Regions from separate parts of the Homo sapiens genome. Here region 1 is reported to be linked to region 2. Evidence: microRNA targets listed by miRTarBase, many of them from high-throughput screens and not tested one by one. Region 2 holds a microRNA gene; the other region holds the end of a gene's coding sequence.

Region 1 (4,000 bases), not on the chromosome of region 2:
AAAGTGAAGGCCTTGTGTGTCAAGTTCCAGGCCTCTGTGGCCACCCCCAGGAATGCTGCAGAGAATGGAGCCATTCAGAATCTCATCAAGGAGGAAGCCTTCCTGGGCATCACTGATGAGAAGACAGAAGGGCAGTTTGTGGATCTGACAGGAAATAGACTGACCTACACAAACTGGAACGAGGGTGAACCCAACAATGCTGGTTCTGATGAAGATTGTGTATTGCTACTGAAAAATGGCCAGTGGAATGACGTCCCCTGCTCCACCTCCCATCTGGCCGTCTGTGAGTTCCCTATCTGAAGGGTCATATCACTCAGGCCCTCCTTGTCTTTTTACTGCAACCCACAGGCCCACAGTATGCTTGAAAAGATAAATTATATCAATTTCCTCATATCCAGTATTGTTCCTTTTGTGGGCAATCACTAAAAATGATCACTAACAGCACCAACAAAGCAATAATAGTAGTAGTAGTAGTTAGCAGCAGCAGTAGTAGTCATGCTAATTATATAATATTTTTAATATATACTATGAGGCCCTATCTTTTGCATCCTACATTAATTATCTAGTTTAATTAATCTGTAATGCTTTCGATAGTGTTAACTTGCTGCAGTATGAAAATAAGACGGATTTATTTTTCCATTTACAACAAACACCTGTGCTCTGTTGAGCCTTCCTTTCTGTTTGGGTAGAGGGCTCCCCTAATGACATCACCACAGTTTAATACCACAGCTTTTTACCAAGTTTCAGGTATTAAGAAAATCTATTTTGTAACTTTCTCTATGAACTCTGTTTTCTTTCTAATGAGATATTAAACCATGTAAAGAACATAAATAACAAATCTCAAGCAAACAGCTTCACAAATTCTCACACACATACATACCTATATACTCACTTTCTAGATTAAGATATGGGACATTTTTGACTCCCTAGAAGCCCCGTTATAACTCCTCCTAGTACTAACTCCTAGGAAAATACTATTCTGACCTCCATGACTGCACAGTAATTTCGTCTGTTTATAAACATTGTATAGTTGGAATCATATTGTGTGTAATGTTGTATGTCTTGTTTACTCAGAATTAAGTCTGTGAGATTCATTCATGTCATGTGTACAAAAGTTTCATCCTTTTCATTGCCATGTAGGGTTCCCTTATATTAATATTCCTCAGTTCATCCATTCTATTGTTAATAGGCACTTAAGTGGCTTCCAATTTTTGGCCATGAGGAAGAGAACCCACGAACATTCCTGGACTTGTCTTTTGGTGGACATGGTGCACTAATTTCACTACCTATCCAGGAGTGGAACTGGTAGAGGATGAGGAAAGCATGTATTCAGCTTTAGTAGATATTACCAGTTTTCCTAAGTGATTGTATGAATTTATGCTCCTACCGGCAATGTGTGGCAGTCCTAGATGCTCTATGTGCTTGTAAAAAGTCAATGTTTTCAGTTCTCTTGATTTTCATTATTCCTGTGGATGTAAAGTGATATTTCCCCATGGTTTTAATCTGTATTTCCCCAACATGTAATAAGGTTGAACACTTTTTTATATGCTTATTGGGCACTTGGGTATCTTCTTTTGTGAAGTACCCGTTCACATTTTTGTATTTTGTTTAAATTAGTTAGCCAATATTTTTCTTACTGATTTTTAAGTTATTTTTACATTCTGAATATGTCCTTTTTAATGTGTATTACAAATATTTTGCTAGTTTTTGACTTGCTCCTAATGTTGAATTTTGATGAACAAAATTTCCTAATTTTGAGAAAGTCTTATTTATTCATATTTTCTTTCAAAATTAGTGCTTTTTGTGTCATGTTTAAGAAATTTTTGCCCATCCCAAAATCATAAGATATTTTTCATGATTTTGAAACCATGAAGAGATTTTTCATGATTTTGAAATCATGAAGATATTTTTCCATTTTTTTCTAATAGTTTTATTAATAAACATTCTATCTATTCCTGGTAGAATAGATATCCACTTGAGACAGCACTATGTAGGAAAGACCATTTTTCCTCCACTGAACTAGGGTGGTGCATTTTTGTAAGTTAGGTAACTGTATGTGTGTGTGTCTGTTTCTGGGCTGTCTATTCTAGTCTATTTGTTGATGCTTGTGTCAAACAGTACACTATCTTAATTATTGTACATTTATAGTTGTAACTATAGTCCAGCTTTGTTCTTCTTAAAGTCAAGATTTCCATATAAATATTAGAAACAGCTTCTCAATTTCTACAAAATCCTGATGAGGTTTCTACTGGGACCACATTGAGTCTATCAATCAACTTATGCAGAACTGGCAACTTACTACTGAATCTCTAATCAATGTTCATCATGTATCGCTTCATGTAACTAGAATTTCTTTAACTTAATTGCTATGTTTTGACATTTTTAGTTTAAAAACCTTGTATATCTTGTTTTGGTGGTTTTAGTGATTTTAATAATATATTTTAAATATTTTTTCTTTTCTATTGTTGTACACAGAAATACAGTTAAGTTTTGTGTGTAGTCTTACGATGTTTAGTAAACTCAATAAGTTTATTTCTTAAATCTAGTAATTTGTAGATTCCTCTGGATTTTGTATATGCATAGTCATGTAAGCTGAAAATATGGCAATACTTGCTTCTTCCCAATTGCTTTACCTTTTTTCTTACCTTATTGCACTGGTTAGCAACCCCAATACAGAGACCACCAGATCAGGTATAGACTCCTGAAAGACAATATAATGAAGTGCTCCAGTCAGGCCTATCTAAACTGGATTCACAGCTCTGTCACTTAATTGCTACATGATCTAGAGCCAGTTACTTTGTGTTTCAGCCATGTATTTGCAGCTGAGAGAAAATAATCATTCTTATTTCATGAAAATTGTGGGGATGATGAAATAAGTTAACACCTTTAAAGTGTGTAGTAAAGTATCAGGATACTATATTTTAGGTCTTAATACACACAGTTATGCCGCTAGATACATGCTTTTTAATGAGATAATGTGATATTATACATAACACATATCGATTTTTAAAAATTAAATCAACCTTGCTTTGATGGAATAAACTCCATTTAGTCACATTTTATCTTGTGTATGTATTATTGGAGTGGACTTGTTAATAGTTTGTTTAGAACGTTTGCACCTATGTTCATGAGAGATACTAGCTTTTTTTCCCCTCCTTAATGCACTTGCTATGGTTTGGGGTCAATGTTATGTAAGCCTCATTAAAATGAGCTGTGATGTGCTCTCATGCTCCTTATTATCTAAAATAATTTGTGTAAAATTATACTTTAATGTTAGATAAATTCACCAGTGAAGCCATCTTGGAATGGTGTTTTCTGTTGGGAAATGATTTTAATTTCAGATTTAATTTCCTCATGATCTAAACCTATTCATGTTTTCTGTCTTTTGTTCGGTTTCAGTGAGTTATATTTTTCAATGAATGTGTCAATTTCCTCTGAATATATATGTATTGGCATAAAATTGTTACAATATCTTTGTATTTCTTTTCAATATAAGTAGGATCTATAGCAATGTCTATGTATCTGTTATGATTATTTGCATTTTATCTTTATTTTATTGTATTTTTTTTTGAGATGGAGTCTCACTCTGTCACCCAGGCTGGAGTGGCTGGAGTACAGTGGCACGATCTTGGCTCACTGCAATCTCTGCCTCCCAGGTTCAAGAGATTCTCCTGCCTCAGCCTCCCAGGTAGCTGGGATTACAGATGCCCACCACCATTCCTGGCTAATTTTTTTAATTTTTTGTGGAGACGAGGTTTCGCCATGCTGGCTAGGCTGGTCTCAAACCCCTGACCTGAGGTGATCTACCTGCCTCAGCCTCCCAAAGTGCTGGGATTACAGGCATGAGCCACTGTGCTTGGCCCATCTCTTTTTTTCTTAATCAATCTTGCAAAGGATTTGTCCATTTTATTAAATTTTTCCAAAAACTTCTTTTTGGTGTTTACTAACCTCTATGATTACATTTATTTATATCTGTTCCTGTCTTTATCATTTCTTGTAT
Region 2 (4,764 bases):
GGTAACTCCTTAATGGAAACTAACCAGAAGTGAGAATTAAAAAAAAAAAAAAATTTAAATATAGTTTGGGACAGAGAATTCTGAATCATATAATTTTAATTAAGGTAAACAGCCTATGTTATCAGCAATTGCTCTTCTAGAGTAACGCTATAAAATAGGACCTCCTGGAAATGTTCTGTACTTGTGCCGCTCAATTTGGTAGGCACTAGCTAATGTGGCTGTTGAGCATTTAAGTGTGACTGGTGTGACTGAGGAACTGAATTTTTAATTTTTTATAAATTTAAATAGCAATAGGTGACTAAAGGCTACCATACTGGACAGTACAAGTCTTGAGTAACACGTGACATCATGCTGTAAAAGGACCCTACCATTACTGTTCCGGAAACTTTCAAAAGTTAAAGAGGAGACTAGGGTTATTCATGTTGGGTGGGCAGGGAAGGGACAATAGGAGAAAAGAAATGTCCAAAGAAACCTAAATTTTACCTCCATGATTTTAGCAATGTTTCCTTCAAATCCATGGACTAGGGCTACGAATATTAAAAATAAAATAAATAAATAAAGAAGAAAGGGAAGCAGAAATCACAAAGACAGAAGGAAAGATTTCCTAAGTAATGGCCACTAAGTATTAGCAGCAGTCAACATTTATTATGCAGTCTGTTTTATGTATTGTACTAAGCACTGCACATGTATTTTCATTTGACCCTCAAAATGAGTCTTCCAGGTACTTTTTATTTCTAGTTTTATAGATGAGGATATTGAGACTTAGGAAGTTAATTTGCTGAAACAAAAATGCATCTTCTAATGAAAATCTAGCAACTAGCATCCTTTCTCTATGTTCTAGCTGTATCTTACGTACCCAATCTGTTACAGCAATTCATACATTATATTGAAATAGAATTTACTGGTTGTTTCTCACTAAAAGGTAAACTCCTTGAAGGCAGGAACTGTGTTCTGTCAATAACGTAATATCTTTCTCAATTACCTACTGTCACCAATTTTTATCAAGGCATCTGAAATATATATATTATTCAATAAGTATTTGCTGAATTGAGTATGAATTTGTTTCTACATTCCAATGATAAACATGTGGTAACACACTCTCTTTCTCTCAACCCTCAGGCATCTATATTTGAGTTTTGAAACAGGTTGAAAGTCTGTTTAAAATAGCATTTTGTAAACTATTTCAAATAATCTAGAAAGAAACTTGGAACTCTTATAATCCGATAAAAACATTTAACTTTAAGCTATTTTTTTCAGGCCCATTAATTTAAAATGTCACATTTCCCATATTTTTAGAAATATTTTAATAGAAACTTTAATACTGTGACTGAAACATTTCCTACACAAAAGTTGTGCCATATAACAACATTAACCTCTGTATGTTGATGTGTAAGCACGAAGACATACCTCTTAAGGTACTTGAGCTGAACATAGTGCCTACGTTAACTTTTAAGTAATAAAGCTTTGATGGTTTCCAATCTTTTCATCTTATTTATCAATGACACTTTTTAAAAACCTTTCACATTTTACTGAATTCTATTCTCTCCTAATGGGCACATTGCCAGTATCTACTAAGGTAGAGTGAGGCCTAGGACAAACTTAGGGAAGCCTGTCAAAAAATCAGAAAGAACCAAAGAAGGTATTCCCTCAGTCCTAATCCACAGACTTCCACCTCAACATTTCATGAAATTCAATCTATAGGCAAAATAAAAATATTCATATGAGACATGCTCTCAAGGCTCTAATATTACCAGAGATGGTATCAAATAAAACTCTTAAATACACCATGGAGCAGCTCTAGTTAAAAAATGATCTCACCTTCAGAAACAACTGTACATATGACTTCTGCTAACTGTTGTCTTAGGAGGAAACAAAATCATTATTCAGTTTAACTGCTATTTTTAAATTTGTTTCACTTTTCTTGTCACTAAGCTTATTTACAAAATTCTTTTAATCTATAGTAACATCAAAAATAAGACTTCGAATATATGAAAACTTGTGTTTGTTGGGGAAAAGATAAATGAACTACAACTAAATTTTATCACACCTATGAATCACTTGAGGATCTTTTAAAAACGCAGATCCTGATTCGGTGACTCTGGGATGGAGCCTAAGATTCTGAGCATCATAAGCTTCCAAGTGATGCTGAAGTTGCTGGTGCAAGGCTTTGTGTAGCAAGTAACTAATTTTTCCAGATTTCAGTGGTTTGATTCTTCTAGGTTTTGTTTTGAAGACAGGGTCTTGGGCTGGGTGCAGTGGCTCACGCCTGTAATCCCAGCACTTCGGGAGGCCAAGGCAGGTGGATAACCTGAGGTCAGGAGTTCAAGACCAGTCTGGCCAACATGGTGAAACCCCGTCTTCAGAGAAAAAAAGAAAAAAAAAATTAGCCAGGCATGGTGGCAAGCACCTGTGGTCCCAGCTACTTGGTACTGAGGCGGAGGTTGCAGAGAGGTGAGATCATGCACTCCAGCTTGGGCAACAGAACGAGACTCTGTCTCAGAAAAAAAAAAAGACAGGGTCTCGTTTTGTCGCCCAGGCTGCAGTGCAGAGGCGTGAACATAGCTCACTGAAGCCTTGACCTCCTGGGCTCAACTGATCTTCAAGTGATCTGCCTACCTCAGCTTCCCAAGTAGCTGGAACCACCAGGGCACACCACCATACCTGGCTAATATTTTTAGGTTTTTTGTAGAGATGGAGTCTTACGTTGTTGCTCAGGCTGGTCTCGATCTCCTGGGCTTAAGCAATCTTCCTACCTCAGCCTCCCAAAGTGCTGGGAGTGTACTGTGCCCAGTCTCTTCTCGTTTTTTAAATGTTCATTTATGCTTTCAACAAATTTTTACTAAATGTGTACTATGAGTCAGACATAAGCATTAATAAGATCTCTGTCCTCAAAGAGCTCATTTGCTTAAAATCAAAAAAGCAAACAGGTCAACAAGTAGGAGTCTATACGGTATAGATGGGGACAGCATTTCAGGGAGAAGAAACAGTCAAGCAGTAAAAGCACTCTGGAGGAACTGCTAAGGGTATCAAATTGCTGAAACACATCGTATTTACAGCAGAGATCAGATAAGAAACTGGAAAAGTAAACAGAGTTAGGTCATGATGAGTCCAGCAAGTCAGAATAAGCAGTTTAAATTTTATTTGGTAGGTTACCACAGAAATGAAGAACTTTTGGTAGGTGTGTTCAGATGTGTATTACAACATTAATGATCGTATAAACTAATAGCAGCTAACATTATTTACCCAGAAACTGTTTCAAGAGCTTTACATGTACTCAGTCACTTAACTCTACATCAACCTTATAAAATTGGTACTAACATGTTCATTCCCACTGAGAATTCTGAAGCACCAAAAAGAAAAATGATTTGCCCTCAATTCAAACTCTGGCAACGTAAGCTCCAGATGCTACGCTCTCTCTTCACCTAGGAAAATTCTGGAAAAATTACTCTGGTAAGCATTGCAGAAGTTGTGTTTGTCAGTGTTGAGCCTGGAAGATAGTTTTGAAGCCACTGGAACTGTCAACGAAGGACTGAATCAAGGCCGGGCGTAGTGGCTCACGCCTGTAATCCAACACTTTGGGAGGCCAAGGTGGGCAGATCACGAGGTCAGGAGTTCGAGACCAGCCTGGCCAACATGGTGAAACCCTATCTCTACTAAAAATACAAAAATTAGCTGGGCATGGTGGCATGCGCCTGTAATCCCAGCTACTTGGGAGGCTGAGGCAGGAGAATCGTTTGAAACTGGAAGGCAAAGGTTGCAGTGAGCCAAGATCATGCCACTGCACTCTAGCCTGGGCAACAAGAGCGAAATTCCGTCCCCCGCAAAAAACAGGACTGAACCAAGGCAAAGGCAATGGAAATGCAAATTTCAGTTATGTTTAGTGAGTAAAAATCCTAACCACTTTGTTACTAAGGGATGAGAGCAAAAGAGAATAGTTTCCTAGTCTCTAACTTGGGAGATGGAAAGAATGGGAATGTCAACCACTGGGAAAAGAGAAAACATTTTTGGCGGGAATTAGGAAGAGAAAATATAGAGATTAAGCCTGAGATACTTATAAGCTATCTAGGTAGAAAGTCAGGCAGACCTGAGTATCAATGGTGTACTCACTGGTATGTTGGTCCTAAGTGAGCTCATGTGGGCATGAACATGTGTGAACAGATGGAACCACATGGGAAGTTGTAGAATTCAAAAAAGAAACACTGACGATGGGCACAGGAGAGTGGTCTGCAAAGTCAAGGGAGTAGTTTCAAGAAAGTAGTCACTAACATTAAATCTGTGGTGCTATCAAGTAAGATAAGCAATGAAAATGGCTGCTAGATTTGGTCAATAGATCACTAGTGACTTTGGAAAGAAATTTCAATGGATTGGTGGGGTCAAAAGTCAACGACAGTGCACTAAGGAATAAAAGATGAAGAGACTGGGATAAATGAAAACACTCTTCCCAAAGATCATTCTACAAAAGAATAAACAGACCAGTAACTAGAAAAGAGAGAGGTTTTATTCTTTTTTATAAGTGAGAGATTTGAGCACATTAATAGCAACACCTGGTGTCAGTGAAGAGAGAGAGTTTTAAAAAAATACAGGAAGGCTGGGCGCGGTGGTTCACGCCTGTAATCCCAGCACTTTGGAAGGCCGAGGCAGGCGGATCACCTGAGGTCGGGAGTTCAAGACCAGCCTGACCAACATGGAGAAACCCCGTCTCTACTAAAAACACAAAATTAGCCAGGCGTGGTGGCGCATGCCTGTAATCCCAGCTACTCGGGA

What was found. The annotated mature microRNA hsa-miR-1273c reads GGCGACAAAACGAGACCCUGUC and lies in region 2 at 2,512-2,533, opposite strand. An mRNA with a match to its seed (bases 2 to 7 or 8) in the 3' UTR can be bound and repressed. Matches are read on the target gene's strand: a 7mer-m8 pairs with bases 2 to 8, a 7mer-A1 pairs with bases 2 to 7 and ends in A, and an 8mer does both.
Region 1: the mRNA of MBL2 is a reported target of hsa-miR-1273c. The part of its 3' UTR that is shown has no 7-base or 8-base seed match.

What each region holds. Positions count from the first base shown.
Region 1 is chr10:52,764,437-52,768,436 of GRCh38, reverse strand. It overlaps MBL2 (mannose binding lectin 2), which reads left to right. Exons shown (of 5, transcript NM_001378373.1): 5 at 1-3,057. The coding sequence ends at 300. Among named protein-coding and RNA genes, the nearest start is that of MBL2, 6.3 kb to the left of the region's middle.
Region 2 is chr6:154,851,138-154,855,901 of GRCh38, reverse strand. MIR1273C (microRNA 1273c) reads right to left here and starts at 2,542; the gene lies at 2,466-2,542.